4 linked regions of the Homo sapiens genome follow. The protein of the gene in region 2 purifies or fractionates together with the protein of the main gene of each other region. This does not show direct contact. Each region holds a gene or a part of one and is shown on either strand. Other genes may lie near its edges.

Region 1 (7,545 bases), 6.0 Mb from region 2:
AATACCCATGGGTTTTTTATTTTTTACCATCCAGTTCTACTGATCTGATCTGAGAACTGGCTGACTCTAGGGCTTCTTGTAGTGCCTACTCTGGGGCTGCTCCTTGCTGAGGTCCACCCTCTGCAGCCAGGGGGATGTTTTGTGCACCAAATGGTGTACCAGGATGTGGCAGTAGTTCCCTGTTCTGGCACTAGGGGAAACTGGAGCAGCTCGGCCCATCTGGGCTTAGCCTTTCTGTAAGTAGCACTGAAACACCTTCTTAGGCAGATCCACACCCCCCCGCGTGTGTGGCAGACGCTGGCTGGTGGTGTGGAGCGCCGCGAGGCAGGTGATGAGAACACAGCCACGATTTAGTCACCGCAGAGAAGCAGTGTGTGGACTTGAGCTAGAAATCCGGACACCTTCCATCTTTTCCTAGTTTCACTTCTCAAGTTGAAATCTCTCACCCTTTCTGAACCATGTATTTTCCAATCTGTCAAGGGGGTCAGGAGTGTTTGTCAGAGAAGCATCTATAGCATCTGTGCCCTCTACGTGCCCTCTGGCGGAAGTTGTTTTCCTGAAACTTTGGACCAGCTTTGGCATTTTAAGCAGGTTTGTTGGCAAAGAGATGGACTGGCAGCAGCAGGGAGGGAGCAATGTGTCTGTCTCACTTGGATTCTGCCCCGAGGGCTCACAATCTGTTTTCCCTGCAGCACCAAGTACCCTAGCGCCACTCAGCAAATGCGAGTTAACGGAATCAGCCCGGCTTCTACAGGGAACCTGGGCTCCTTTGCCTCAGGAAGGCAAGTGGCTTCCCAGACAGCGTAATTTGGGAGGATGCATCGCTCTGCCACCCAGGCTGGAGTGCAATGGCGCGATCTCAGCTCACTGCAGCCTCTTCCTCCCGGGTTCAAGCGATTCTCTTGGCTCAGCCTCCCTACTAGCTGGGATTATAGGCATGCACCACTGCACCTGGCTAATTTTTGTATTTTTAGTAGAGACGGGGTTTCACCATGTTGCCCAGGCTGGTCTCAGGTGATCTGCCCGCCTCGGCCTCCCAAAGTGCTGGGATTATAGGCGTAAGCCACCGTGTCTATGGCCAAGCCTCTCTGAATTAGACAACAACTAGATAACCTACTTGGAAATTTGATTAGCATCTTCCAGATTTTCCACAATGAGGAGCGTCATCCCCAGCAGCTTGAAGGCCTAATTTTGTGTTTATTACCACAGTGACTTTGCTTTTTAAACCAGTAGGATTCTGCCAGGGAAGACTTGGAAGTGGCAGGAGACCCTGCTCTGCTGTAGGAAAGGATGTTCTCAGAGTTTCTGCCCTGTTCATAGTTTACATCCAATGCACACACACGCAGTTTCCTTATGTGACTGCGTCCTTGTTCCTCCTCATGCTGTGATTTCACCTGTGGACTGCTCTGTGTACTCCCATAGCATTAACCAGTCATGGGATGTGGGCTCCCAAAGCGAGGCCTAGCCTCGAGTGAGGAGGCAGCTCCCTTCAGAGAAGGGCAGTGTCCAGGAGGGACTTGTGGTCTGTTAGCACCAGTACACCTGGTGCCTCAGTCTTCCAGGGGGAATGCAGACAGAGCCACAGCACTCACCTCTGCAGCAGTTCTCAGACGTGCCCCCGACCCGCAGCCTCACCTCAGAAAGGCAACTCTTCCAGCCCCACTCTGGAGGGACGGAATCAGAAGCTGGGGAAAGGTCCAGCAGTCTGTGCGCACAGCCCTCTGGGGGATTCTGAGGCATGCTCAGGTTTGAGAGCCCCTGCATTATAATGATAGAAATAGTTGTAAATGGAGCCAGGCACAGTGGCTCATGCCTGTAATCCCAGCACCTTGGGAGGCCAAGGTGGGTGGATCACTTGAGGTCAGGAGTTTGAGACCAGCCTGGCCAATGTGGCAAAACTCCGTCTCTACTTAAAGTACAAAAAATAGCAACGTGTGGTGGTGCACGCCTGTAATCCCAGCTACTCAGGAGGCTGAGGCAGGAGAATCTCTTGAACCTGGGAGGTGGAGGTTGCAGTGAGCTGAGATTGCGCCACTGCACTCCAGCCTGGGTGACAGAGCCAGACTCCATCTCAATATATATATATATATATGTATGTATAAATAAATATATATGTATATTTATAAACTTTTTTTTTCAAAAACCATTTTAAAATGTTAAACATACGTGTCATAGGACCCAGCCCTTCACTCCTGGGTATTGAACTGAGAGAGGAAGGCATATGTACGCACAAAGACCTGTACGTGGATGCTCATAGCAGCTGTACTCACAATACCTTTAAACTAGAGACAACCCAGGTTCATCAGTAGGTGAATGGATAAACAGAGTGTGGTGTATCTACACAGCAGAGTACTTAAGAAGTGAGCTGTTGATAACCCAGCGTCATGGGTGAATGTCTAAGTTATGCAGAGTGAAAGAAGCCAGACCAAAAAAAAAAAAAACCCATATATATATATATATATATATATACACACACACACACACACACACACACACACACACACACACTCTATATATATATGTACTATGTATATGTGTACTATATATGTATATATACACTATATATACACACTATATACACACTATATATATATATATATATATATATATATATATATATATATATATATATATATAGTGTGTGTGTGTGTGTGTGTGTGTGTGTTTAGTTTTTGAGACAGAGTCTTGCTCTGTTGCCCAGGCTGGAGTGCAGTGGTGCAATTTCGGCTCCACTGCAACCTCCACCTCCTCCTGGGTTCTAGTGATTCTCCTGCCTCAGCCACCCAAGTAGCTGGGATTACAGGTGTGTGCCATCATGCCCGGATAATTTTGGTATTTTTAGTAGAGACCTGGGTTTCTCCACATTGGCAAGGCTGGTCTCGAACTCCTGGCCTCAAGTGATCCACCCGCCTCGGCCTCCCAAAGTGTTGGGATTACAGGCGTGATCCACCACGCTTGGCCTATATATATTTATATGCTATAAATATATAAAAGTCCATTGATAGAAAAGTCTAGAGTGCAAACCATAGTGATAAGAAAGATCAGTGGTTGCCTGGGAATGGGGTAAAGAGCAAGAAAGGGTTGGATTATTAAAAAAAATGAGGAAATTTTGAGGGGGATGATGGATGTGTTTATTATTATGATGTACTGGTGTCTCCATTGTGTACATATGTCAGAACTCATCAGGTAATGTACCTGATCAAGTTGTATAGCAGTTTATATGTCAAGAACACCTCAACAGAGCTGTAAAAAAAACACGACAGGTCTGACAGTTACCTGGGAAAGGTGGGGGAACAGGTGGTAGAAGAACACATTTTTTATGATGTTCATGGTACTTACATAACATAAATGAATAAAATAGGGCCAACATGGAAAAGAAAACAAAATGAAGGAAAATGTCAAATTGCCATCCTGAACACCAGCACCGCCTGTAATTAGCGTTCCTGGCTGCAGCCACATCTGCGGTCCTGCTCCTCATGAAGCCGTCCTCCGTGCCATGTCCCGGCCATGCCTGTCCTTAGCTTCCTGGTGCACACTGTCCTCCACCTTGTGTTCAGGCACAGGGCTGCTTGGCTCACCCTTGCTGCACCTGGCCTGTCCGTCCTCCCACCGCGGTGCCGCCCAGGCCTTCCCACTGCAGGGCTGGCTAACGGTGCATGGAAGAGACTCGAGTCCGTGTTGTGTCCTCATAGCCCACCGAGGAGGCAGCAGTGCCGGACATTTCGCGGATAGGTTGTGGTCTCTGAGTCTCCTCCTCTCAAGAGGATGAGATTTGTCTGTGTTATTGTCAAAACTCTTATTTGTCACGCCGCGGGTTATGTGTCAGTAACAAAAAGCTGAGATTTAGGCCGGTGTTTCTTACTGGTGCAGCCTTTAAATGCACACCTGCGAATGTTCAGTGCACCTTCCGCTTCCTGGCTCTATTTCAGTCAAACCTGAGGTCGTAGTGAAAGTCGGTGAGGAATTCTTTGGAACTTCCTGATTGGCTGTGTCCTTGCCTCCTTGTCTTCCCGCAGATTTGATTTGTATCCACTGTCACCAGCACTGCTCACTTAGGACTTTCTGGATCCGGACCCAGGCAGCGCACACTGGACTCTTGAGGAAGTGAGTACCCCACCACTGCCTGCCTGTTGAACCCGGGGAGGCTCTTGTCTGACTGAAATCACTGCAGGCTTCCCGACGATCCCCTGGGTGTGTGTGGGCAGGCGCACTTGCCACTGGGCACAGGTGATAAAGCATTGTGATTTTTTTTTTTGGTGAGAGGAACGGATGTATCTAAGATCTCAGGAAACTGAGAACTTCCTTTTCTGCTCTTATTAAATGTCAATATATATATAATATATATCAATATATATGTAAATGTATATATTGACATTTAATAGCAAACACTGGAATAATGAGAGGATAGTGACGTTCAGACGTTAAAAGCCAGTGGGCTTCATCGTGGAGCTCAGAATTAAGGTGAAGTTATTTAGCCACACCCAAGGTCAGGTCAGGTAAAATGCTCATTTAACTTACAGGAATGAACTTTGAAGACCATGGCCTTCAAATTGCCTGGGATTATTTCCATGGAAATGCTACTGTGTTTACATTGTCACGAAATGATAGGAAATAGTTTTTGGTTTGGGTTTTTGTTTTTGTTTTGAGACAGAGTCTGTCACCCAGGCTGGAGTATAGTGGCACGATCTCAGCTAGTTGCAACCTCCGCCTCCCAGGTTCAAGCGTGTCTCTTGCCTCAGCCTCCCGAGTAGCTGGGATTACAGGTGCTCGCCACCATGCTCAGCTAATTTTTGTATTTTTAGTAGAGACAGGGTTTCCCAATGTTGGCCAGGCTGGTCTCGAACTCCTGACCTCAGGTGATCCACCCGCCTCAGCCTCCCAAAGTACTGGGATTACAGGCATGAGCTACCTCACCTGGCCTTTCCTTTTTTTTTTTTTTTTTTAGAAGCTGGGTCTCCCTGTTGCCCAGGTTGCAGTGTGGTGGTGGTGCAATCACAGCTCACTGCAGCCTCGACCTCCCAGGCTCAAGTGATCTGCCCACCTCAGTCTCCTGAGTAGCTGGGACTACAGGCATGCACTACCACACCCAGCTAATTAAAAAAAAATAAAAAATAAAAAATAAAAAGTTTTTTTGTAGAGATGGGGTCTCACTGTGTTGCCCAGGCTGGTCTTCTGGTCTTGAACTCCTGGGCTTAAGCAATCCTCCCACCTCAGCCTCCCAAAGTGCTGGGATTACATGTATGAGCCACCATGCCCAGCCACCCCCCCCCCACCCCACTTTTTTTTTTTTTTTTTTGGACAATCACCAGAGAGCTGAATTTTACATTGATTTCACATGTTTGTGTCTTAGGTGACTTTTCCCAACTGTTAATTGATAGAAAATGATTTGTCTGTATCCTTGAAAGATTGTACTGTATTATTTAAAAAAAAACCCTCTAATCTTCCCATTTGACAAATGTGACAGAAGGCTGTGATGAATCAGTAGCATTTAAAGTACTGACACATACCTGTATTTTGCAGGAAGGAGACTCTAATTTTGGATTCCTTGGTGGAGGAAAATAAAACACTCTGGTCTTGCCGCCAACGATGCAAGTGTGACTGCTGGCGTCTTCATGAGCTCCAGAGGTCACAGCACGCTACCAAGGACTCTCATGGCCCCTCGGATGATTTCCGAGGGAGACATAGGAGGCATTGCTCAAATCACCTCCTCTCTATTCCTGGGCAGAGGCAGTGTGGCCTCCAATCGGCACCTCCTCCAGGCTCGTGGCATCACCTGCATTGTTAATGCTACCATTGAGATCCCTAATTTCAACTGGCCCCAATTTGAGTATGTTAAAGTGCCTCTGGCTGACATGCCGCATGCCCCCATTGGACTGTACTTTGACACCGTGGCTGACAAGATCCACAGTGTGAGCAGGAAGCACGGGGCCACCTTGGTGCACTGTGCTGCAGGGGTGAGCCGCTCAGCCACGCTGTGTATCGCGTACCTGATGAAATTCCACAACGTGTGCCTGCTGGAGGCGTACAACTGGGTGAAAGCCCGGCGACCTGTCATCAGGCCCAACGTAGGCTTCTGGAGGCAACTGATAGACTACGAGCGCCAGCTCTTTGGGAAGTCGACAGTTAAAATGGTACAGACACCTTATGGCATAGTTCCCGACGTCTATGAGAAGGAGTCCCGACACCTGATGCCTTACTGGGGGATTTAGTGCCACTGAAGCCTGCGTCAGCAGCCCGAGCGGGGCCGGCATCTGCTCCCCGCCGTCTGCTCCCTCTCCACTCTCTTCTCAAATGGCTGACTTCTGGTTCTCCCTCAAGTGTTTTTTACACTGGGTGTTCAAATTTATTTTAAGAGATAGGGAGGGAGGGGACATAAAGGGAATGCATACATTGCTAGTCACATTTTTAAAATTAACATTTTGGAATAGTGTTTATGGAAATCTTTAGCTTTTAATCATTTTTACCAATTTGAACAGTTTAATAAACTGGTTCTGCTCTCTTCTGAATCTCATGCCTTTGGCACCTTGGTAGGTGCAGGAGGAGCTCAGTGCAAAAATCACTTTGGGGCCTCATTAACCCTTTAGAGACAAGCTTTGCCCCAGGCTGCGGACCAGACAGATGCTTAGGGAAGGTTGATAACCAGCTTCAGTCTCTACTGGATTAGCCCTACTCTTTCCTTTCCCCTCCATTATTTAGTGACTCTGTAAGTAAGTTAAATACACCCTTATTATTTAGCTGTTAAGTAACTATAATGAAATCTGCTGCAAAATCTCTCTTGGAATCCATGTGCCCAGGATTATATTAGCATTATTTTTAATAAATCTATATGCTTAACATATTAGAATTTTTACTAATAATTTCAAGGTGTGTGTGTGTCGATGATGGGAAAAAGGTGCTCTCCAGTAACTAACTAACTAACTGCTGAAATGTGGCTCCTGTGCCAGTTGGGAACATTACTTAAAATACACATCCCAGCAGAGTCTTGTCGGCGCGTCACATCCTGGTGGACAGGCAGACACACCGTCCCCGGTGCTGGGCCGGTGGGAGATGATTGATAGTGCACGCTCTGATCAGGGGTGCTGGTTTTGGTTTCCTCTTGGTTAGTGGAGCGCCCCGAAGCAGCGTGTCCTCCATCAGAGAAACTGGTTTTCAATAAAAGGTGCCTCTGCTTGACTATTATTACCACATACGAAAATGCCCTAAACCAAACCTCAGTATGAGCGATAAGCAAGTAACAAAAACAAACAATGGCTGCCTTTGTTTAACTTTGGGACTGTCTGTCACCCAGTTCACTGCTCCTGATAAAACGGGCAGCACCGCTCATCATCATCAGATACATGGTAGAAGGTGAATGAGCTCGCCCCTGTCCCACTCCTGGGACACTCCTGGGCACTTTCCACGTGCCCCCAAGTAACCACTGTCCTAGGGCATGCCTTTCTTCTGCATGGAGGGCATCCTGGGCGTCTGCCCGTGCAATGGGAACCCGCTGCGGCACTGCTCTTTGGCTTCATTTATCAGGAAGGTTGTAGCTTGCTCACCAGAGGA
Region 2 (7,545 bases):
TTTCTAATAGATAATGTACACGAAGCTCACTCCTGGTTCAGTTCATTTTGCGTGGCTTCCAACTGAACGCAAGGGCAGCTCAGGGCCATGTAAAATCTGAGTCTACTACAGAAACCCTCGCCCCACCCCCAAAACACCTCTAAATTTCAGATAAGTTACTGCTAATCCCTACTCGGTAGGGTTGCCAGGTTTAGCAAAAACAATAAAAACAAACAAAAAACCCAAGTAGGACACGCAATTAAATTGGAATTACCTGAGCAGCTCTTTAAAAAATCCCATGCCTGGGCTACACCCACAACAATCAAACCAGAACGTCTGAGGATTCAGTCTAATCATCAGAATTTTTAAAATCTCCCCATTTCAAATATGTCCTGGCCAGGCATGGTGGCTCATGCCTGTAATCCCAGTGCTTTGGCAGGCTGAGGTGGGAGGATCACTTGAGGTCAGCAGCTCGAGTGAGGCAACACAGTGAGACCCTGTCTCTACAAAAAATAAGAAAAATTAGCTGGGCGTGGTGGTGCATGCCTGTAGTCCCAGCTACTCAGGCAGTTAAGGCGGGAGGATCGCTTGAGCCTGGGAGTTCAAGGTTGTGGTGAGCTATGATCATACCACTACACTCCAGCCTGGGCAACAGAGCAAGATCCTATCTCTAAAAATAACATCTGTCCCATGTATTAGATAGAACATATTTATTCTAAAATTATTTTCTATCTGAAATTCAAACTTAACTGGGCATCCTGTCTACTACCTCGCAGCCCCACTACTGAGGGGTAAGGGCAGAAACAAAGATCAAGCTCCTACCACCTAGGCTCTGGGACCTGCCACCAAGGGGTCTGGGATCTGCCAGGGGCTGTGGAGCTGGGACACCTGGGGCATCTGCCCCCTCAAGCTAGCTTTTGAGCCCAGAAGAATATTTTTACAAACATACACCATCTTTAAAAGCCAAGCAACAAGCCAGGTTTTACAAGAAATGTATTCTGGCTGAAGAAAGTAAGGTTGGACTTGAGGTGTGTGTGAGCTGGAATTCAGCCCCCCATTTAAAAGCCAGGCCTGCTCCAGAGGCCCCTCTGGCACTGCAGCAGGTCCCGGGGGCCTTTCAGACGCCGGCTCCCTCCGGAGCCTGTTCCCATGGCGCCCCTTAGAGGGAGGAGCCTGAAGCACGCCCCAGGCTGCCAGCTGCTTCCGCCCACCTTTCCCGTGGCAGAGATTCCTTCCCACGTTGTGACTCAGGCTGTGTAACCCAGGCCTCTGCAGCCTTCTCTGAAATTCCAATGCAGCCAAAGGGCAGATAACATTTTACAGATAAAATACTCAACCCTGGGGTAAGGCCCCCACGCACCAGTACTCCTTCTGACCTAACACCCAGGCCAAAGCTATGTCAGGATCTGTCTTGTTCCTTTCAGCCGTGGCCACTCCTTCCTATTGGCAAATTCTCAAGAGACCCTCTCCTCATGCCTTCTTCCACTGCCTCTTCGCAGAACCCTTGGGGGAGCCCAAGGAGACCCGCGTCCTAAGGGGCTGAGAAACTCCTAGAAGACCGACTGCCTAGCCTAGTCTTCCCAGTGTGGGTGGCTCCAAAGTCCTGGGTCAGACCAGTGCAACCCCATTATGTGCAGCATGAAACTAATCCCCAACAAAAGATTAAAAAGAAGCCACGAGATCCAACAAATGCAAAGGCTGATTGGAATGGAATTGAAGGTTGGTCCTGGCCACAGCCCTGCCTCTGTCAAGCAGGTGTCACACCCAAGTCCCCAGATCCCCTCTCCTCACCCTCACTGCCCTCTCTTTCTGCAACTCCCCCTCCACCGCCCTTCCCAACATGCCCAAACCTTCCTTCTCATACTATAAGATGTGCTGAAGAAAGCAAGAAACTGCAGGGGGAAGAATAAGACCACACACGTTTATATATATTTGGATTAAGAAAATGAATCACAAGCCATATAAAATTGAGATAAATTGGAAAACTCTAAGGTAAGTACCATGTCTATTCCCAGCTGCCTAGAACAAAGATCCATTAAAAATCCATGGTGTGAATTTCCACCATGGGTCAGAAGGATGGAAGACTAAGGTTTTCCTGCAACTTTCCCAACCGCCTCCCACCAGTGCAGCGAGTGCTCCCCTGGCTGAGAATCAAATACAGGTGTGTTTCTAAACGCTGGAACGAAGCAGTCTTGCTGCCACACGAGTGGAGCCCGGAGCTAGGATTCTGAAATCCAAACCCAGGCCTGCCATCACCAGGCTGCGTGGAGAATGAAGACAGGGAGCCAGGCAGACGGTTTCTCCGTGCATCCATCTTAAGATGCAGCCATGGGAAGGAAACTGACTGGGATGGGAGTTGTGTTCCTCCCCAAAACTCATTTCTTTGGTTGCCCGATGTCAACTCCTGCCTTAGACACCCATCCCAAACCCTCCTTCTCCTTCATTTTTATCCCTTCATGTTACAATGACGCAGTGAATGCTGCTTCATTGTCTTAAAACTGAAACAGAAACGGGGAGGTAGGTAGCATGGATGGGGGAGTGCACGAACTCTATAGGTACAGGATGAGGATGCCCCGCACTAGCTGCTATGAAACCTGAGTCCTCTGTTCACTCTGCACACACATCACAGAGGGCTGCTGGCCGGTGGCCAAGGCATTTGGTGAGGGCCCCATCTCATGGACCCTCCAGATGCCCCTTCATCCTCTCTGAGCTTGAACACTGGGGCTTGAAAGGTGGCCAAAGAGCTGGCGAGGACACAAATATGGGGCATTCAAACTCCTAGGAAAGATCACAATTTTGCTCCCACTCCCAAGGGGACTAGGAGTGGGGTGAAAGAGCCCATCGTACTAGAGCGAATGTGAATCCTTATCCCCAGAGGTAGAATCATTTTACCCAGTACCGGAAACACGAGCTTCCAGTTCTTGTTTTTACAGTAACTCCTGATAGCAGACCTTGCCTCCTCCCACTTCCAGTACCCTCTGCCCCTTGCAAAGGGGCCACAAAGTGCATGCACGGCTAACCGTGTGGATGCTGCCCACAGCCACGGCCACTCACCCCTCGCTCGTGTGCACAGCCTCCCCACATATACACGGGTACACGTAACGCATGGTGGCCAGAGAGACATTTACAGTGTGAGTGTGAGGCCCGGCTTAGGCCTGCATCCTTGGGCAGGGTCTGCCCTTGGTCCCAGGGTCCTAAGGCTGCTCTGCAGCCAGCCCCGTGCCTTAGTGTTTGATCTCGAGGATGGAGGGATTGTGGTCCAGGATGGCGAGGATAATCTTGTCCATGTACTGCCTCAGCCGGAAGTTGATCTCCTCCTGCTCCTTCAGGGCTTCCATTAGCTGAAGGAAATGGGAAAGACGGGTCAGTGGCTGGGCCTGGGATAGGGTGCAGGCAGAGTCCAGACTCCCAGGCTTGTCGCAGGCCAGTGCCTGACAATAGAGGGCATCAGGAGATCCTGGGCAAGGTGGGCCCCAGGACAGCCTCAGCATTTGGATGCCAGGACCAGAGTCGAAGTGGCTCAGCCCCTAGTATTACCTATGCAGGTGCCCAGGCCCCACCCCCAGAGATTCCAATGTGATCAGTTTGTAGAGGGGGCCCAGGTGTGGGTAATTTTTTGCAAAAGTAGAAAACACTAGCCAAAGTCATTTAAAATCAAGACTGACAAAGTCCCAGGGCCGCTAAGACTCCAAAGGGGAGCTGTCTCCTGCCTGGAACACCTCTCCCCACCCCCAGCCCCACACTGCTCTTCTCCAGGGCAGTGTTCTTTCGGACATTGCTGACATGCTGCCTCTGCCCAGGGGTTGGGGCCCAGCTCACCTGGGAGCTCCTTGAGGACAGAGGTCAGCTCTTCACCCCGTGTCCCAGGCAGAGGGTGAGGCTCAGTGACAGAGTGTCTTGTAATTCATGTTACAATGCAGCCGGGGCATTTTGGAGGCCTGATCTTTCATAAGCATACTCTGGTGTGGCAGGAAGGGTAGGCTTTGGCTTTGGAGAGAGCTGGGTCCCTCTCCCTCCCTAGCTGGGTGGTCCTGGGTTCCACCTTCCCAGCTTGGAATGTGGAGCTGTTCCTAAAGCCTCAGAGTCATCAGGAGATTAAGTGAAAACACACCGCAGAAGCAGGTGCTGGGGAAATGCTAATGTCCTCCCTCTCTGGACTGGGAAGAGCGGGAGTGATAGCCTAACCCAGAGTCACAGCTTGATCCACTCAGCTGGCTATGTTGGCATTTTTCTGGCCGACCTAAGACTCACACTCCACTCTGAACCAAACCCGCACTCCTTCCAGCACAGGCGGAACTCAGAGCTGACTTAACTTCTCCAGCAGCCCCCTCCCCTGCTCACAGCCTTGCCCTGTCATGTGGGGTAGCTGTAGATGGGACTCTCTGCCAGGCCCTGGTCTGGTTTTCTCACTCTGGGCAGGTGGGGGCCGGGAGAAGGAATCACAGAGGGCGGCCAGGCCCCAAAGCAAGAGCCGGTGGTGTGGTTACCTCATCGCGCGAGGCGGTGTCTATCTCCGCAGCCAGAGACTGGGCTTTAGTCTGGGCAGCAAAGAGGTTTTTTGCTTCGTAGAGGCTGAGGCTCAAAATCTGCCCATTCAAGTCGTCGTTCTGATCCCGCAGCTTATAATTCTCCTACAGAGAGAAGGACGAAGGCGACATCAACCCCAAGAGGCATCCACAGCCCACTGGAACCCACTTCTCCACATCCACCGTCCCCGACCTGCCGCCAGCGCCATTCCCACAGGTGTGTGTCACGGCTGGTTCAAGGGGCCATAGATGTTGCAGCCTTTGCCAAGCGCTGGGGGCAAGGAGGGCTGGGTCCTGGTCCAGGGGACTGGCATCCTGGGAGTGCACAGGGTTTGTGGAGGAGTTACAGCCCTGCTCAGCGCAGCCAAGGCTCCTGGCCATCCCTTCCTCCCTAGGCCCTGCATAGGGACATCACCCACCCAGCAGCCCAGTGAAGGAAGTGATGCTCTGGGCTCTCTGGGCAGGCTGGCCAGCTCATTTCCTTGGCTCCCCCAGCAGCCACGTTCCGAATCCTGCTTGGTTGGAGTTGACCCAGGCGGACCCGCCCAGATCCCATGCACCGGTCTCACACTCCAGCTTTTGCCTAAAGAGCCCTAATGCTCACACCTGGGACCCTGGGCACCCCACCCCTAGACTAGGAGAAGGGTTGGGGTTTTAGGATTTCTGTGAGAGCACAGCCACCAGCACCTTTGTCCCCAGTGGAACAAACTCAGAAGGATAATTTATGCTGCAGGCTCTTCCACCTGCAGGGTCAGGCAGAGCTGACACTTCACCCAGCACCACCTGGCCACTGCCTCCTCCTGATCCACTCCCCCACCCAAAGGTCTCTAGCTAAGGCAGCGCTCCTTGAAATGTAATCTTCTGGCTAGGCACAGTGGCTCATTCCTGTAATCCCAACACTTTCAAAGACTAAGGGTGGGAGGATCCCTTGAGCCCAGGAGTTCAAGCCTGGGCAATATAGGGAGACCCCATCTCTGGAAATAAATACATAAATAAGTAAATTAGCCAGGTGTGGTGGTGCTCTCCTGTAGTCCTAACTGCTCGAGAGGCTGAGGTAGGAGAATTGCTTGAGCCCAGGAATTTGAGGCCATAGTGACTGTGATCACACCACTGCCCTCCACCCTGGGCAACACAGTGAGACCCTGCCTCAAAAAACAAAAACAACATTAGCTGGGCATGGTGGTGTGTGCCTGTAGTCCTAGTTACTAGGGAGACTGAGGCAGAAGGATCACCTGAGCCCAGGAATTCAAGGCTGCAGTGAGCTATGGAGTGCCAAAGCACTCCAGCCTGGGTATCAGAGCAAGACCCTGTCTCTTGGGAAAAAAAAAAAAAAAAAGGAACCTTGGGTGAGGGTCTACTTCTGGGAGAACCCAATGCCTCCAGGCACTATACTGCAGCTGGGTATGGTCTCATCCTCCACCCTGAGCACCAAGGCAGGGTCTATTTCCTTACATAGACGTAAGGGAGAGATCTTTGGATCGATTTTCCTGAGCTGTGAAATGGGGCAGTCAGCCCTGGCAAACAGGTTGCTGAGAAGCAGACAGGCAGTGCTGCTACAGCTCTGGGCTCCCCTACCACAGATCCTGCACAGGAAACCCACGTGGTGGGCCCGGCCACCCTGCCCCACTGGACACAGAGACTGCTAGACCCACCTGCTTGAGCCGCTTGACCTCGTGCTCGAGCTCCACCTCGCGGGCCCTGGCATTGAACTCGCCTAGGCCAGAGGAGGCACTGCGGCCCCTGCCTGGCCGCTCGCAGTCCAGCTTGTACATCTGCAGGTGCTCCAGCTCCTTCCGCAAGTCCTCGATGAGCTGCGAGGGAGAGAAGCAGGTTGGCAGGAGCAGGGATGCTGGAAGGAGCCCTGGTGCCTGCTGGCCTGGGACCTACCTCCTGCGTCGCCTCCCGCTCCTTCTGGAACTCAAGGCGGTTCTGTCGCAGCTTGTCCATCATGCGCTTGTACAGGTCCATCTCATCTTTGAGCCGCAGGCTGGTGTCCTCCAGACGGTCAGACATGCGCTGCCGCTCCTGGAGCAGGGAGACCCGATCAGGGGAGGAGAGTTCCCAGAGAGGGGCTCACTATGTCCAGGGGTGTCCCTGGGGTCTGGTCAGCCATCTTCACGAGGCAGATGCACAGTGAAACCAGCTCCCTTAGACGGAGCCCTGAGTCTTGGCTTACAGAAACGGCCAGAGCCCCGATGATTCTAGAAATACAACTAAAAACCTCAGGCCTCTGAAGTCCTTCAACGATGCTAGATGCAACCTGAATTGAAGGTGTTAGCCCAAATAGAAGCTAACCTCTTTCTAAAACTAATTTTTCTCCATTGTATAAAGTAATAAATACATTCGCTGTAGAAAACTTGGAAAATCAGAAATACAGAAACACAAGTTGTTATTCACTTTTTTTGCATTTCTTAGGGGGTGCGGCATTTGTTTAGAATTTCAGAAGCAATAAACTAAAGGCTCCCGATGGCCAGCCCTGCCCCTCCAAGCCTGGATCTGCTGCTCACCTCATCCAGTTTCTCTGTTTGAGACTTGAGCCGAGTCACTGTTGTTCTAAGCTCTGTATTTTCTTCCTCCAACTGCTGCACCCTGGCGAAAGGAGAAAGACAAATCTCAGAAACCTGGAATGTAGACTATCTGATAAGCGCCTGCCAGTCTGCAGTGATTCTCTGCTTCCTCCCAGAGGAAAGATACCAGAAACCAACTGAGAGAAAGAATATGATTATTATGTCAAAGACAATTTAGCCGTGAGCTTCCTATCAGCCAAAGCAAAATAGTAAGGACTATTTGTAAGCAAAATAGTAAATTATCATTCTTATTTTCTTTCTTTTTTTTTTGAGACAGAGTCCTGCTCTGTTGCCCAGGCTGGAGTGAGGTGGCACAATCTCAGCTCTGCAACCTCTAACTCCTTCAGCAATTCTCGTGCCTCAGCCTCCTGAATAGCTGGGATTAGAGGCATGCACCACCACGCCTAGCTAATTTGTGTATTTTTAGTAGAGACGGGTTTTGCCATGTTGGCCAGGCTGGTCTCAAAAACTCC
Region 3 (7,545 bases), on a different chromosome or scaffold from region 2:
CAATCGGGTTCAACCAGGTGATTCTGGACACAGGAATCTAACCTCTGCCCCACGCAGGGTCAGGAGTCACCGAAGCCACAACCCAAACCAACCCCCACTAACAACTACAGAGCTGAATGAAAAGTCTCCTGAAACTCGTGTGTACCCTACAATTCTGACTGTATCTCAGTGACATAATTTTTGAGAATTCCCCTCAAATGACAAAGGAAGTGCACGTCCTAACACAGCCTACACCGGGAAGCCCCGGGTGACTCAGCTGAGTTCAGGGCTGAGAAGTGACACTTATTTAGAGACTGTGATGAGGGCCTACCCTGCCACTGGCCCCACCCCCGCCTCAGGCTCAACACTGTGTGTGGCTCCTTTCAAATCCCCAGAGGGAAATGACACAGTGACTCAAAATCAGACCAGAACACCCTGCCTCCGCCCAGACGGCACTTTTCCTCTGGTTTCTGAATGCAGCTGTGTCCTCTCTGAGGTTCCCCGCCTGGAATCCACCCAGCTGAGGTGGGCAGTTCTCAGACCAACCTTCTCCCCAGTGGGCGCCTCGGTGAAGCTGCTGATGGGTGCGGGATGTACTGTCTGCCACAGAACATCCCAGCGCGTGTGTTTCTGCATGAACCTTGGTGCTGCCTCAGAGAACTGCCTAGAAAGGACCCGAGCGAGAGGCCCTGTGCCCGGCAGTGCGAGTGAGATGGGGTCTCAGCCTAGGTGAGATGTGCACGGAGTGCCTCCATTCCCCTGCCTGCCACACACAGACCACCACAAGCACCAGCAAGATGGAAGGTGCCTGGCACACAGATGCCTTGGGCCACTGCTCCCCTACTTTTCTGCCTAGGAGCCCCCTGGTTTCTCCTGATGCTGAAACTCCCACGGTCCTTCTCTCTCCCACTAGACCCCACAGAGAGCTACAGCCCAGATCCAGCCTATCCTGGAGGTCCAGCGAACCCTTCTTTGGCCCTCACTGTCACTTGGTGCCGCTGCCCCCGGCCCTTGCTTTGATGATGAGGAGGCTGTGGCCCTGAGCCAGGTCTCCAAGCTTGCGGGAGGCCGTGCTGCTGGCAAGGACATGCCTAAAGCCAGCTTTGGAGATGGCGGTTCCAGCTGTGCCTGCATGCACTCAGACACACTGAGCCTGAAGAAGGCGGGCACTCACGGTCCTTCCAGGAGTTTGGGGTGTGGAACTGGAGGCACTCCCCATCCCCAGCAGTACCACCTGGCTCTGCTTCAGTTTCCTCGGATGGAGGATGTGACTACACTTCCTCCAGGCAGCTCTGCCAGGCTCAGCTCCTCCTCCTCATCCTCAGCTGAGGCAGATGAAAGCCAAGTGCCATCTCCCACCTGGGAGCGGGGTCGGCCACAGGCCTGGTGCTGGGCAGTGAGGTGGCTGCCTGCTTTCCTATTACATTTTGCATGTTCCATCATTTTAAAAGAAACCCTTGGATGAGTGAGCTTTGCCCCGTCAGCTGACTCTCGTTACTGAGAACAGAAGTGGGTTCTGGGGCGCCCCCCCACCTCTGTGATCAGGGGCCTGTAGGCGATGCTCCCAGCACACAGAGGTCTTCCCCACACTCTGCTTACACTGTGGCCTACCTGGTCAGGACTTCTCTCCCCCACATTCCTTTGTGCATGCTGTCGTTCATCCAGACACTTGGCCAGATGCTGACACATGTGGGCGGTGGCGGTCAGCGTCCTCCGCAGCTGATGGGTCTCGTTGGCCAAGGAGCGGCACAGGACGTCACTGGCGGCCCGGGCGCGCTCCCCTTCTGCCATGCTCCTCCGTAGCAGGACGACTTCCTTCTCTCGCTCGTGTTGGGGCTGGCTCAGCAGCTGCTGCATCTCCCTCTCTTTTTCTTCTAGTCGCTCAGTCAGCCTCTCAATTTCCTAAGTGGAAGATTTAAAAGCACAGTTTACTGAATTAAAAGAAGCAGTGTCAAGAGCAAATGTTCAGAAAGCAAAAGAAGACCTGGCGTGGATGCCCCATCACCAGACACAAACATACTCACTCAGAAGTTGGGCGTTTGAACTAACAATTACTCACTCAGAAGTTGGGCATTTGAACTATTAACTCTGGAGTTTTTCAGCCTACAATGTTCTGTTCTGAAACTTCATCTCAAATTTTTTTTTTTTTTGAGACAGAGTTTCACTCTGTTGCCCAGGCTGGAGTGCAATGGCACAATCTTGGCTCGCTGCAACCTCCACCTCCCAGGTTCAAGCGATTCTCCCACCTCAGCCTCCTCAGTAGCTGGGATTATAGAGCCCACCACCAAGCCCAGCTAAAAGAATTTTTTTTTTTTTTGAGACGGAGTCTCGCTCTGTCGCTCAGGCTCGAGTGCAGTGGAGCGATCTCAGCTCACTGCAAGCTCCGCCTCAGAGGTTCACACCATTCTCCTGCCTCAGCCTTCCGAGTAGCTGGGACTACAGGCACACGCCACCACGCCCAGCTAATTTTTTGTATTTTTAGTAGAGATGGGGTTTCACCATGTTAGCCAGGATGGTCTCGATCTCCTGACCTCATGATCCGCCTACCTCGGCATCCGCCCACCTCAGCCTCCCAAAGTGCTGGGATTACAGGCGTGAGCCACCACGCCTGGCCCAATTTTTATATTTTTAGTAGAGACGGGGTTTCACCATGTTGGCCAGGCTAATCTCGAATTCCTGACCTTAGATGATCCGCCAGCCTTGGCCTCCCAAAGTACTGGGATTATAGGCGTGAGCCACTGCGCCCAGCAATTTTTTTTTTTTTTTTTTTGAGGCAGGGTCTCACTGTCACCCAGGCTAGAGTGCAGTGGCACAATCATGGCTCACTGCAGCCTCGACCTCCCCAGGCCCAAGCGATTCTCCATCCTAACCTGAGTAGCTGGGACTACAGGCACGTGCCACCGTGCCTGGTTAACTTTTTTGTATTTTGTAGAGACAGGGTTTTGCTGTGATGCTCAGGCTGGTCTTGAACTCCTGGGCTCAAGAGATCCACCCGCCTTGGCTTCCCAAAGTGCTGGGATGACAGGTGTGAGCCACCACGCCCTGCCAAATTCTATTTTCACAAGCAAGTTCATAATTTTAGATTTCATATCATCAAAATGTTTTTTTGAGATGAGGGTTTCGCTATATATAGCCCAAGCTGGTCTTAAACTCCTAGGCTCAAGCAAATCCTCCCACCTCAGCCTCCTGAATAGCTGGGACTACAGGCTCAAGCCACCACACCCAGTTATCATCAAATTATCAAAGTGGCAATTCCAAGCACTTTTTTGATGGGATAGGTAGAAACTCCACTGTGGTGGGTAACCCCAAAAAGATGTCCACAACCAAACCTCCCATTCCCCGGTATCTGGGAATGAAACCTTACTTAGAGATAGGGTCTTTGCAGATGTAATTAGTTAAGGTGGGGACAAAATGGATTAGGACGGGACTGGTGTCCTTGTAAGCAGACAGAAGTCTGGACAGACACACAGAGAGAAGACGACCACGTGACAACAAAGATAGGAGTGACGTCTTGTCTTGTGGATAAAGGCCAAGGAACACCAAGGATTGGTGGCCCCCACAGGAAGCTGAAGAGGCGAGGAAGGGTCCTTCCCTAGAACCTTGAGAGAGAGCCGATGCCTTGGTTTCTGGCTTCTGGCCTCTAGAACTGTGAAAGATTAAATTTCTGTTGCTTGAAGCCCCCCAGTTTGTGTTACTTTGTTACAGCAGCTCTAGGAAATTAACACACCCAACCCCAATTACTTCTTAAAGAATTTAAAAAGGTTCTTAAAATGACAATTTTATTTTGAGATAGGGTCTCGCCCTGTCACCCAGGCTGGAGTACAGTGGTGCCACCATGGTTCACTGTAGCCTCCACCTCCCAGACTCAAGTGATCCTCTTGCCTCAGCACCCTAAGTAGTTGGATTACAAGTGCATGCCACCGTACCTGGCTAATTTCTGTATTTTTTGCAGAGACAAGGTTTCACCACTTTGCCCAGTCTGGTCCTGGACTTGAGTGATCCGCCTGCCTCAGCCTCCCAAAGTGCTGGGATTATAGGCACGAGCCACCACATCTGACCTGACAATTTTTTAATATCTGGCCTTAAATTTGTACTTTTCCGTTTTCAAAGAATCCTCCAAAATAAACAGTACATTACATGAAGGAGGTGAAGCAGGCTCAACTAGTCCATCCCACAAGTGAAGAAACAGTTTCAGAAAAGTCACGGAGGAGCCCAAGCTTCCCCCAGAAGTGGCGGGAGAAGGGTCCAGCCTCTGTGTCTAGTACTTGAGGTAAGAAGGGACAGAGACCGGGAACCTAGAATGTTCTCATCACAATGGAACAAAATACTAAGCCCTATTACTGCGAGAACCCTGATTATTATTATTATTATTATTATTATTATTATTATTTTATTATTTTAGAGACAGGGTCTCGCCCTGACACCGAGGCTGCAATACAGTGGTATAATCACAGCTCACCGAAGCCTTGAACTCCTGGGTCCAAGTGTTCCTCCCGTCTCAACCTCCCAAATAGCTGGGACCATGGGCTCGAGGTCAAGGCTGCAGTGTGCTGTGACGGTGCCACTGCACTCTAGCCTGGGTGACAGTGAGACCCTCTTCAGGGATAAAGGACTTTGAGCAAAACCTGACTTCTGGTTTTTTTTTTTTTTGATAAAGACAGGGTGTGGCTATGTTGCCTAGGCTGGTCTTGAACTCCTGGCCTCAAGCAATCCTCCTCCTGCCTCAGCAGGGGTCACCGTGCCCAGGTAAAATCTGATTTCGGAGCCTCCTTCCTGCGTTGGTCAAATGCTGACAGTAGGAGAAACAAACAGCTCCACAAACAGGAGGGCAGCATGTCCACAGCTCGTAGATCCTGAGGGCGTGGCTCTCTCTTGCCTCCACACCCTAGTACTCAACACTGAGCCCAGCCCCACACAGATGCCCAGTAAATGGGAATAAGACTGGGCCATACAGAGACAGATCAGGACGCAGGCTCTACGCTCAACCCGTGGGGGCAGGCCAGCCCTGCAAAGGGCTGCCCCACTCATCCTCCCCTCGGCAGCATGAGGGCCCCAGGACCCCTCCAGCCCCCGGGCTTCTGGCATTTGTCACTGGCTCTGAAGTTGCAGAGCTTTGTGCTGGTTTATCTGTCTGAGTGCCTTGTCCAGTTAGTAACAGTTCTTAGGACACAACAGCACCTCGACCACTGTGGTCAGAAAACAAGGTACGAGCTGGAGTTGTGGGTCTACACACACAGGCACAACACACAGACTAGTCAGCAACTGGGCTGACATCTCTCAGGAAAGCCTGTCGCCGGGACCCACAACTCCATAGCTCCACGCTCAGAACACAAAAGTGTAAACAGCTCTATTAATAGTCTTGTGGATTGGCCTTAAGAGGCACAGTGGCCTCTTGGCTTTTAGCGCTGCGGCAACAAAGTATCACAAACTTGGTGTCTTAAACAACAGAAGTGTATTCTCCCAAAGCCTGTAATCCCAGCACTTTGGGAGGCCGAGGTGGGAGGATCACTTGAGCCCAAGGGTTGGGACTAGCCTGGGCAACATGGCGAGACCTTGTCTCTACAAAAAATACAAAAAACATTAGCCAGGCATGGTGGTGGGCGTTTGTAGTCCCAGCTACTCGGGAGGCTGAGACAGGAGGATCACTTAAGCCCAGGAGGTCAAGGCTGCAGTGAGCTATGATCATGCTACTGCACTCCAGCCTGGGCAACAGAGTGACCCTGTCAAAAAGAGGGGAGGGGAGGGGAGGAGAAAGGAAGAAAGAAAGGAACAAGGAAGGTGGCCCGGGGCGGTGGCTCATGCCTGCAATCCCAGCACTTTGGGAGGCTGAGGTGGGTGGATCACGAGGTCAGGAGTTCAAGACCAGCCTGGCCAACATGGTGAAACCCCGCCTCTACTAAAGATACAAAAAATTAGCCAGGCGTGCTGGTGGGCGCCTGTAGTCCCAGCTACCCAGGAGGCTGAGGCAGGAGAATCGCTTGAACCCGGGAGGTGGAGGTTGCACTGAGCCAAGATCCCGCCACTGCACTCCAGCCTGGCGACAGAGCAAGACTCAGTTTAAAAAAAAAAAAAAAGGAACAAGGAAGGAAAGAAAGAAAAGAAGAGAAGAGAAAAGAAAAGAAAGAGCCAAGAAAACAAGCAAAGCAAAGCTAAGCTAAGCCGGAAGGGAAAGGGGGCTGATACGCCAGGACCAGGCAAAGCCTATGAAGCTGGTCCCGAGAATGGTGACAGGATGGGGTTGGGCAGGACCAGGTTGCACAATGAATTGGTGCCATTATTCCAGAAAGTATTAACTGGAGGGGCTTTGTAAAGTTATCCACTCAGGCCTTGTGTTACAGATGAGGTAAGGTCTCAAGTCCAGCTGTGGCTGCACTGAGGACCACAATTCTCTGGCCTGATCTTGCCCCATCACACACTGACCGCAGCTTGATCACAGACGCACTGGTCAGCTCCTCCACATTCTGAGCCTCAGCACTCTCTCTGGGAGCCCTCAGTCCCTACTGGTCCAGGGTTCCTGCTCCTAACGGGCTCTCATAGATGAGAGCAACCTAGCAACGGCTTGCTTCCTGCTGTGTCTTTAACTCTGCACTGCCACCTCAGTGAACCCAGGGCCTGCAGGAGGTGACAAACCTCTCCATTCTTCCACAGGTTCCATGACCGACCTCAGATTGAACGTTGGGATGAGCAATAAATATGTAATTGCATAAAATACCAGATAAGGCCAGCACAGTGGCTCACGCCTGTAATACCAGCACTTTGAGAGGCCGAGACAGGAGGATCCCTGGAGGCCAGGAGTTTGAGACCAGCTTGGGCAACATCATGCGACCCCTTCTCTACAAAAACTTAAGAAGTTAGCCAGGTGTGGTGGCTCATAGTCCTTGTGGTAGGCTCTTCGCCTATAGTCCTAGACACTCGGGAGGCTGTGATGGGAGGGCTGGTTGAGCCCAGGAGTTCAAGGTTACAGTGAGCTATGATGGCCCCAAGGCATTCCAGCCTAGGTGGCAGTGTCACAGACCAAGACCCTGTCTCTAAAAAAATAAAAATAAAAATAAAAAAACAAACAAACAAAACTAAATCATTAAAATGTTCCTTAAATAATTAAAAATCCCCCCATGCTGGGCGTGGTGGCTCATGCCTGTAATCCTAGCACTTTGGGAGGCCAAGGCAGGAGGATCACTTGAAGAAAGGAGTTCTAGACCAGCCTGGGCGACACAGCAAGATCCCGTCTCTACAAAAAAAAAATAAAATTAGCCAGGTGTGATGGCACACTCCTGTGGTCCCAGCTATATGGGAGGCTGAGGCAGGAGGATCACGTAAGCCCAGGAGGTTGAGGCCACAGTGAGCCATGTTTGTGCCACTGCACTCCAGCCTGGGTAACAGAGTGAGACCCTGTCTCAAAAAAATAAAAAAATAAAAATCCCAAAACAAAACCTACATGCTTACATGTTGGGAAGACAGGACCAGGGCCAGTAATACTGGGAACACAGAACTAATTCTATCTGAGGCTACCAGGAAGCTGCAATAAGCTGCTTGGTGAGTGGCCAGATACACAGGACACCAGGGAAC
Region 4 (7,545 bases), about 12 Mb from region 2:
CAGATCTCTGAGCTGGATGATGGGCCACTACCATCTGTATATGGCTAATTAAAGACCATGTGTGGATTTTTTATTCAGCTCTTTCGTGTCATTCCTGCTATCAGCACAGAACCCAATCTCAACTTTCCAGCTATATTGAGCTAAACTTCTCACCTCATGGAATTTGCAGATAAAGTTCAAAAGGATCCTTGCCTTTTCAAAATAATTTTGAATGGTTGAGTAGTCCCTCTGTGCTCTCTCACTGACACCCTCTCAAGGCTGCTGAGCACGTGCCATGCTATGGCTTTCTCCAACATCAGGAAATGTTCTCCACTCAGTTTCACCTTAATACAAATGTGTTCTCTCTTCAGAGAAGGCAAAAAAATTCATGACCATCTGACTGGGAGAAGTCATTTCTAGGTAAAGTGTCCATCTTTTTCTGAGGAACACAGGAGGAAAATCTTACAGAAAAGAGTTAACACAGCAGGCCTAAGACTGCTTTTTAAAATAAATAAATAAATAAATAAATAAATAAATAAATAAATAAATAAATAAATAAATGAATGATAGGGTCTTCTGTATTGGCCAGGCTAGTCTCAAATTCCTGGCTTCAAGAGATCCTCCCACCTTGGTCTCCCACAGTGTTGGGATTATAGACATGAGCCATTGTGCTTGGCCCAAGACTGTTATTCTTAAAAAGTCTCATAAAAAGCATGGTTAATCCTTGGCTGGCACCTGGGAACTTAGATTTCAGAAGGGTTCCCACCATCCAACCTGGAAAGAGGGACTCACTGTGCCTAAATTATTGTGTGGTTTATGCTGAACTCCTGCTTTTCTTCAGGTAGCGTGGAATGTGGTATGTGCTGGGCAAAGGGGGCCTGCATGACCAGCCCCCAATAAAAACCCTGGGTGTTGGGTCTCTAGTGAGTTTCCCTGGTAGACAGCATTTCACATGCGTTGTCACAGCTCCTTCCTCGGGGAGTTAAGCACATACATCCTGTGTGACTGCACTGGGAGAGGATGCTTGGAAGCTTGTGCCTGGCTTCCTTTGGACTTGGCCCCATGCACCTTTCCCTTTGCTGATTGTGCTTTGTATCCTTTCACTGTAATAAATTACAGCCGTGAGTACACCACATGCTGAGTCTTCCAAGTGAACCACCAGATCTGAGCATGGTCCTGGGGGCCCCCAACACAGAAATAAATTATAAAAGACCAAGGACTGGGCATGGTGGCCCATGCCGGTAATCTCAGCGCTTTGGGAGGCCGAGGCAGGAGGACCAGTTAAGCCCAAAAGTTCAAAGTTACAGTGACCTATGACTGCGCCAATGCACTCTAACCTGGGAGACAGAGCAAGACCCTGTCCCCAAAACAATAAACTAAACACATACTTCTGCCTTCCAAGTGTCTTAAAATTCAATGGAATGGTAGAAACATTTTTAAAACACTAAATCAAAAGAAACCTGGAAAACAAGAGTGCCGATGGCCAACTAAAATGTCTAGGAAATTTCTGAAAAGTAAAAAGTACTCAGAACCAGATTACCTGAGCAAACCATAGCCCAATACAAGCTTGGGAGGAGGCTGTTATGCAGAAGGAAATGGTAACAGGTTTCCAGGAACAGACTTGTAACAGCAGATAGAACAGCAGAGGTAGAACCTGACAAGGTGATTACCTGGGGAACTGCAGTCTGAATGACCAGGACTGTTGGACCCTTCCCCTCACATGGAATACACACGCCACTCAGCAGCACACCACAGCTCTTCAACAATCACAGGAGGCACGCTACGCCTAGTAAGACAGGAAAAAAGGAATTCTCAAACTTCGAAGATGAACACATAAAGAATCACCAAGTTTTTATTCAGTATGATGAAACAGGGACACTGAATCAACAGAACACAAACCCAAGCAAAGATAATTACTAGAGCACATAGAAGAAATTATTAGATATTCTTGGGAAGACCTAAGGGGACATTATAAAGAGCAAGCAGTTGGTATGTGACGATCTTTGTGATATACCAAGAAATAAAAACACAGGATGAAGACCAGATAGAGAATAATGCTACTATTTGTGCAAAAAAGGAGAAATGGAGAATCTGATTCATATTTGCTTGTATTTGCATGAAGAAACTTTGGAAGGTACATAAGTAACTAACAACAATGGTTACCTACTTGTAAGGCGAGAGAAGTAAGAGGACAGGAATGGTGGGAACACCTTTTGTGTCCGGAATTGGTGGGTTCTTGGTCTGACTTGGAGAATGAAGCCGTGGACCCTCGCGGTGAGCGTAACAGTTCTTAAAGGCGGTGTGTCTGGAGTTTGTTCCTTCTGATGTTTGGATGTGTTCGGAGTTTCTTCCTTCTGGTGGGTTCGTAGTCTCGCTGACTCAGGAGTGAAGCTGCAGACCTTCGCGGCGAGTGTTACAGCTCTTAAGGGGGCGCATCTAGAGTTGTTCGTTCCTCCTGGTGAGTTCGTGGTCTCGCTAGCTTCAGGAGTGAAGCTGCAGACCTTCGAGGTGTGTGTTGCAGCTCATATAGACAGTGCAGACCCAAAGAGTGAGCAGTAATAAGAACGCATTCCAAACATCAAAAGGACAAACCTTCAGCAGCGCGGAATGCGACCGCAGCACGTTACCACTCTTGGCTCGGGCAGCCTGCTTTTATTCTCTTATCTGGCCACACCCATATCCTGCTGATTGGTCCATTTTACAGAGAGCCGACTGCTCCATTTTACAGAGAACCGATTGGTCCATTTTTCAGAGAGCTGATTGGTCCATTTTGACAGAGTGCTGATTGGTGCGTTTACAATCCCTGAGCTAGACACAGGGTGCTGACTGGTGTATTTACAATCCCTTAGCTAGACATAAAGGTTCTCAAGTCCCCACCAGACTCAGGAGCCCAGCTGGCTTCACCCAGTGGATCCGGCATCAGTGCCACAGGTGGAGCTGCCTGCCAGTCCCGCGCCCTGCGCCCGCACTCCTCAGCCCTCTGGTGGTCGATGGGACTGGGCGCCGTGGAGCAGGGGGTGGTGCTGTCAGGGAGGCTCGGGCCGCACAGGAGCCCAGGAGGTGGGGGTGGCTCAGGCATGGCGGGCCGCAGGTCATGAGCGCTGCCCCGCAGGGAGGCAGCTAAGGCCCAGCGAGAAATCGGGCACAGCAGCTGCTGGCCCAGGTGCTAAGCCCCTCACTGCCTGGGGCCGTTGGGGCCGGCTGGCCGGCCGCTCCCAGTGCGGGGCCCGCCAAGCCCACGCCCACCGGGAACTCACGCTGGCCCGCAAGCACCGCGTACAGCCCCGGTTCCCGCCCGCGCCTCTCCCTCCACACCTCCCTGCAAAGCTGAGGGAGCTGGCTCCAGCCTTGGCCAGCCCAGAAAGGGGCTCCCACAGTGCAGCGGTGGGCTGAAGGGCTCCTCAAGCGCGGCCAGAGTGGGCACTAAGGCTGAGGAGGCACCGAGAGCGAGCGAGGACTGCCAGCACGCTGTCACCTCTCACTTTCATTTATGCCTTTTTAATACAGTCTGGTTTTGAACACTGATTATCTTACCTATTTTTTTTTTTTTTTTTTGAGATGGAGTCGCTCTCTGTCGCCCAGACTGGAGTGCAGTGGTGCCATCCTGGCTCACTGCAAGCTCCGCCTCCCGGGTTCACACCATTCTCCTGCCTCAACCTCCTGAGTAGCTGGGACTACAGGCAATCGCCACCACGCCCAGCTAATTTTTTATTTTATTTTTTTTTTAGTAGAAGCGGAGTTTCACCATGTTAGCCAGATGGTCTCAATCTCCTGACCTCGTGATCCATCCGCCTCGGCCTCCCAAAGTGCTGGGATTACAGACGTGAGCCACTGCGCCCTGCCTATCTTACCTATTTCAAAAGTTAAACTTTAAGAAGTAGAAACCCGTGGCCAGGCGTGGTGGCTCACGCCTGTAACCCCAGCACTTTGGGAGGCCGAGGCGGGCGGATCACGAGGTCAGGAGATCGAGATCATCCTGGTTAACACAGTGAAACCCCGTCGCTACTAAAAATACAAAAAATTAGCCGGGCGTGGTGGTGGGCACCGGCAGTCCTCGCTACTGGGGAGGCTGAGGCAGGAGAATGGCGTGAACCTGGGAGGCAGAGCTTGCAGTGAGCCGAGATAGTGCCATTGCCTTCCAGCCTGGGCGACAGAGCGAGACTCCACCTCAAAAAAAAAAAAAAAAAATAGAGACCCGGAAAGTTAAAAATATGATAATCAATATTTAAAAACACTCAAGAGATGGGCTAAAGAGTTGACGGAACAAATCTAAATATTAGATTGGTGACCTGCAAAACCAGCCCAAGGAACATCCCAGAATGCAGCCCATAAAGATAAAGAGAGCATTTCCGCTGGGCACAGTGGTATGGCAGGGGAATTGCCTGAGTCCAAGAGTTGCAGGTCACATTGAACCACACCATTGCACTCCAGGCCTGGGCAACACAGCAATACTCTGTCTCAAAAAAAAAAAAAATTAAATTAAAAAAGACAGAATATTTGAGAGAAAAAAATGCTTATTTCAAGAAACATGAAAGATAAATCAAGATATTCTAATTCCCAAGTAAGAATAATTCCAGAAGCAGAAAATAGAATAGAGGCAAGGAAACACTCAAAACTTCTCCAGTGCCATAGAAATGTGTATTAATCTTTAGAATGAAACGGACTACCAAATGCTGAGCAGGAAGAACAAAAGAGATCCACTCTTAAGCCAGTGTGGTGCCCAAGCGCAGTGGCTCATGCCTGTAATCCCAGCACTTTGGGAGGCCGAGGCAGGTGGATCACCTGAGGTCAGGAGTTTGAGATCAGTCAGGCCAACATGGTGAAACCCTGTCTGTACTAAAAATACAAACATTAGCTGGGTATGGTGGTGCACATCTGTAATCCCAACTACTTGGGAGGCTAAGGCAGGAGAATCACTTGAAACCAGGAGGTGGAGGTTGTAGTGAGCCGAGATCATGCCACACTCCCAGCCTGGGTGACAGAGCAAGATTCCATCTCAAAAAAAAAATCCACTCCTAGACAAATAATAGTTAAATTTTAGAACACCAAGGAGAAAGAAAAAAAATTGTAAAGCTTCAGAGAAAATAAACATTAACTACAAAGAAACGAGAGTCAGACGCGTGCACTTCTTCCTAGATACCAGCAGATAAAGCAATATCTCCAAAATTCAGAAGGTTTTAACGTAGAATCCTATACCCAGTCAAGAATATTCACATGGAAAAGTGAAATAAAAAACATTGTTTAAACATGCAAGGGTTCAGAAAGTTTACCATTCACAGAATCCCTGAAAACAAAACCAAATAATCACTTAAGGACTCATTAAGAAAACAAATGAAATAAAAGCACCAATGATGAGTAAATAATCAGAAAAATTTACAGTTTACCTAAATAACTGTTTATGCATAATGTATGAAAACCCAAAAATTTAATATGGGACAGAATTAAAATCATGATAAGATTCTTTTTTGCTTTACTCATGGAGAGTTCACATAAACAGATTATCTTTTAATAGCAAGAGAAAAAAATGTTTAGATATGTGTGAAAAACTAAGGGTACCAAAACAGTGCAAATTCATTTATCATCAGGAAAATCCAAATTAAAACCACAGTATCCACCAGAATAACTAAAAGGTAAAAGACAGAAATTACCAAGAGTTGGCAAGAATGTGGAGCAACCACATATACTTCTGGGGTAAATAAGTTGGTGCAACCGGTACTGAAAACTGTTTGCTAGTATCTACTAAAACCGAGCACATGCACAGACTACAACCAAGCAGTTCCACTCCCAGATACACACTCAACAGAAATGCACACACTCACTCAACAAAAGACGTGTACTAGAGTGTTCATGTACTTACTATTCATAATAGTCCAAAAATGCAAACAACCAACTGCCAATCAAAGTCAAATGTATATCTATATTAGGGATATATACAATGGCATATACACAGCAATGAGAATGAAATGAACCAGCTCGGCACAGTGGTTCATGCCTGTAATCTCAGCACTTTGGGCGGGTAAGGCAGGCAGATCACTTGAGGTCAGAAATTTGAGACTAGCCTGGCCAACACGGTTAAAACCTGTCCCCACTAAAAACACAAAAATTAGCCGGGCATAGTGGTTGCAGGCCTGTAATTCCAGCTACTCGGGAGGCTGGGTTGGGAGAATCGTTTGAACCCGAAAGCCGGAGGTCGCAGTGAGCGGAGATCGTGCCACTGCACTCCAGCCTGGACGATAGAGCAAGACTCCGTCTCAAAAAAGGAAATCAAAAATATAAAATAAGATGACAGGAATAATCCGCAAAAGATCAGTAATCAAAATAAATATAAATGGGCTAAAGCTACCTATTAAAAGACAAAGATTTCACACCCATAAGGATAGCTACTATCAAAAAAAGAGAGAGAATAACAGATGTTAGCAAGGATGTATGGAAACTGAAATTCTCACGCATTGCTGGTGAGAATATAAAATGGTTCAGCCTCTGCGGAAAACACTATGCTGGGTCATCAAAAAATTAAAAATAGAAGTACTACTTGATCCAACAATTCTACTTCTGGGTATATACCCAAATAACTGAAAGCAGGGTCTTGAAGAGATATTTGTACACCCATGATCATGGCAGCATTATTCATAATAGCTATGATGTGGAACCAACATAAATATCCTTTGATAAATATATGGATAAGCAAAATGTGGTGTATACATTCAATGGAATATTAATTAGCAATAAAAATGAAGAAAATTCTGACACATGCTACAACATGGATGAACCTTGAGGGCATTACATTAAATGAAATAAGCCAGTTATAAAAAGACAAATACTATATGAGGTACTATATTAGATACTCATGCAAGGTACCTAAAATAGGCAAATTCATAGAGACAAAAAGCAGAATGGTGGTTGCCAGGGGCTGCGGTAATGGATACAGAGCTTCAATTTTGTAAGATGAAAAAATTCTGGAGATTGGTTGCATAACAATGTGCACACACTTAACACTGGGGAACTGTAAACTTAAAAGTAGTAAATGGTAAAAATAAAAATAATAAATAATAAATTTTATGTTATTTTACCACAATATTTATTAAAAGACAAAGATTAACTAATTAAACAAAATCCAGCCATAAGCTAATGGTAAGAGTAACAATTAAAGAAGACACAGAAAATTGAAAATCAGTGACTAGAAAAAGATATTCCATATAAATGCTAACAAAAAGCAAGTACAGCAATATAAAGAGAATGAACAAAAAAAAAATTAAATAAGATGGCTCGTTTATTCCCAAAAGGTACAATTCACCAAGAAGATACAAGAATTGTGAACCTTTAAGCACATAAAACAGCTTCAAAAATACAACATTTAAAGAAAAATATATATTAAACATAGAAATAGTACAAAAACCCCTACAAGAATCATAATGGGAGTCTTCAATACAACTCTCCATATCAACAGGTCAAACAGAGAAAAAAAATAAGTTAAGGATGCAGAAAACCTGAATTACCATCAATAAACTTGAGATTAATATAGAACTGTATACCCAATATACTAAGAGTTCAGGGAACAGTCGTGAC

The links.
Region 1: the proteins of RAB11FIP4 (region 2) and DUSP14 purify together in Homo sapiens (affinity purification with mass spectrometry; 2 studies listed by BioGRID and IntAct, with this or other methods). This does not show direct contact.
Region 3: the proteins of RAB11FIP4 (region 2) and TNIP2 purify together in Homo sapiens (affinity purification with mass spectrometry; 2 studies listed by BioGRID and IntAct, with this or other methods). This does not show direct contact.
Region 4: the proteins of RAB11FIP4 (region 2) and SPECC1 purify together in Homo sapiens (affinity purification with mass spectrometry; 2 studies listed by BioGRID and IntAct, with this or other methods). This does not show direct contact.

What each region holds. Positions count from the first base shown.
Region 1 is NC_000017.11:37,506,661-37,514,205, forward strand, and holds the end of DUSP14 (dual specificity protein phosphatase 14), read left to right. Parts: intron 1-4,016; 5' UTR 4,017-4,104; intron 4,105-5,520; 5' UTR 5,521-5,612; coding exon 5,613-6,209; 3' UTR 6,210-6,838; downstream 6,839-7,545. UniProt on the Homo sapiens protein: Involved in the inactivation of MAP kinases. Dephosphorylates ERK, JNK and p38 MAP-kinases. Plays a negative role in TCR signaling by dephosphorylating MAP3K7 adapter TAB1 leading to its inactivation.
Region 2 is NC_000017.11:31,527,391-31,534,935, reverse strand, and holds part of RAB11FIP4 (rab11 family-interacting protein 4), read right to left. Parts: intron 7,095-7,545; coding exon 7,013-7,094; intron 6,531-7,012; coding exon 6,393-6,530; intron 6,317-6,392; coding exon 6,158-6,316; intron 4,611-6,157; coding exon 4,467-4,610; intron 3,321-4,466; coding exon 3,204-3,320; 3' UTR 1-3,203. UniProt on the Homo sapiens protein: Acts as a regulator of endocytic traffic by participating in membrane delivery. Required for the abscission step in cytokinesis, possibly by acting as an 'address tag' delivering recycling endosome membranes to the cleavage furrow during late cytokinesis.
Region 3 is NC_000004.12:2,746,065-2,753,609, forward strand, and holds part of TNIP2 (TNFAIP3-interacting protein 2), read right to left. Parts: intron 1,882-7,545; coding exon 1,591-1,881; intron 1-1,590. UniProt on the Homo sapiens protein: Inhibits NF-kappa-B activation by blocking the interaction of RIPK1 with its downstream effector NEMO/IKBKG.
Region 4 is NC_000017.11:20,012,207-20,019,751, reverse strand, and holds part of SPECC1 (cytospin-B), read right to left. Parts: intron 2,608-7,545; exon of another isoform or gene 2,147-2,607; intron 1,766-2,146; exon of another isoform or gene 1,650-1,765; intron 1-1,649.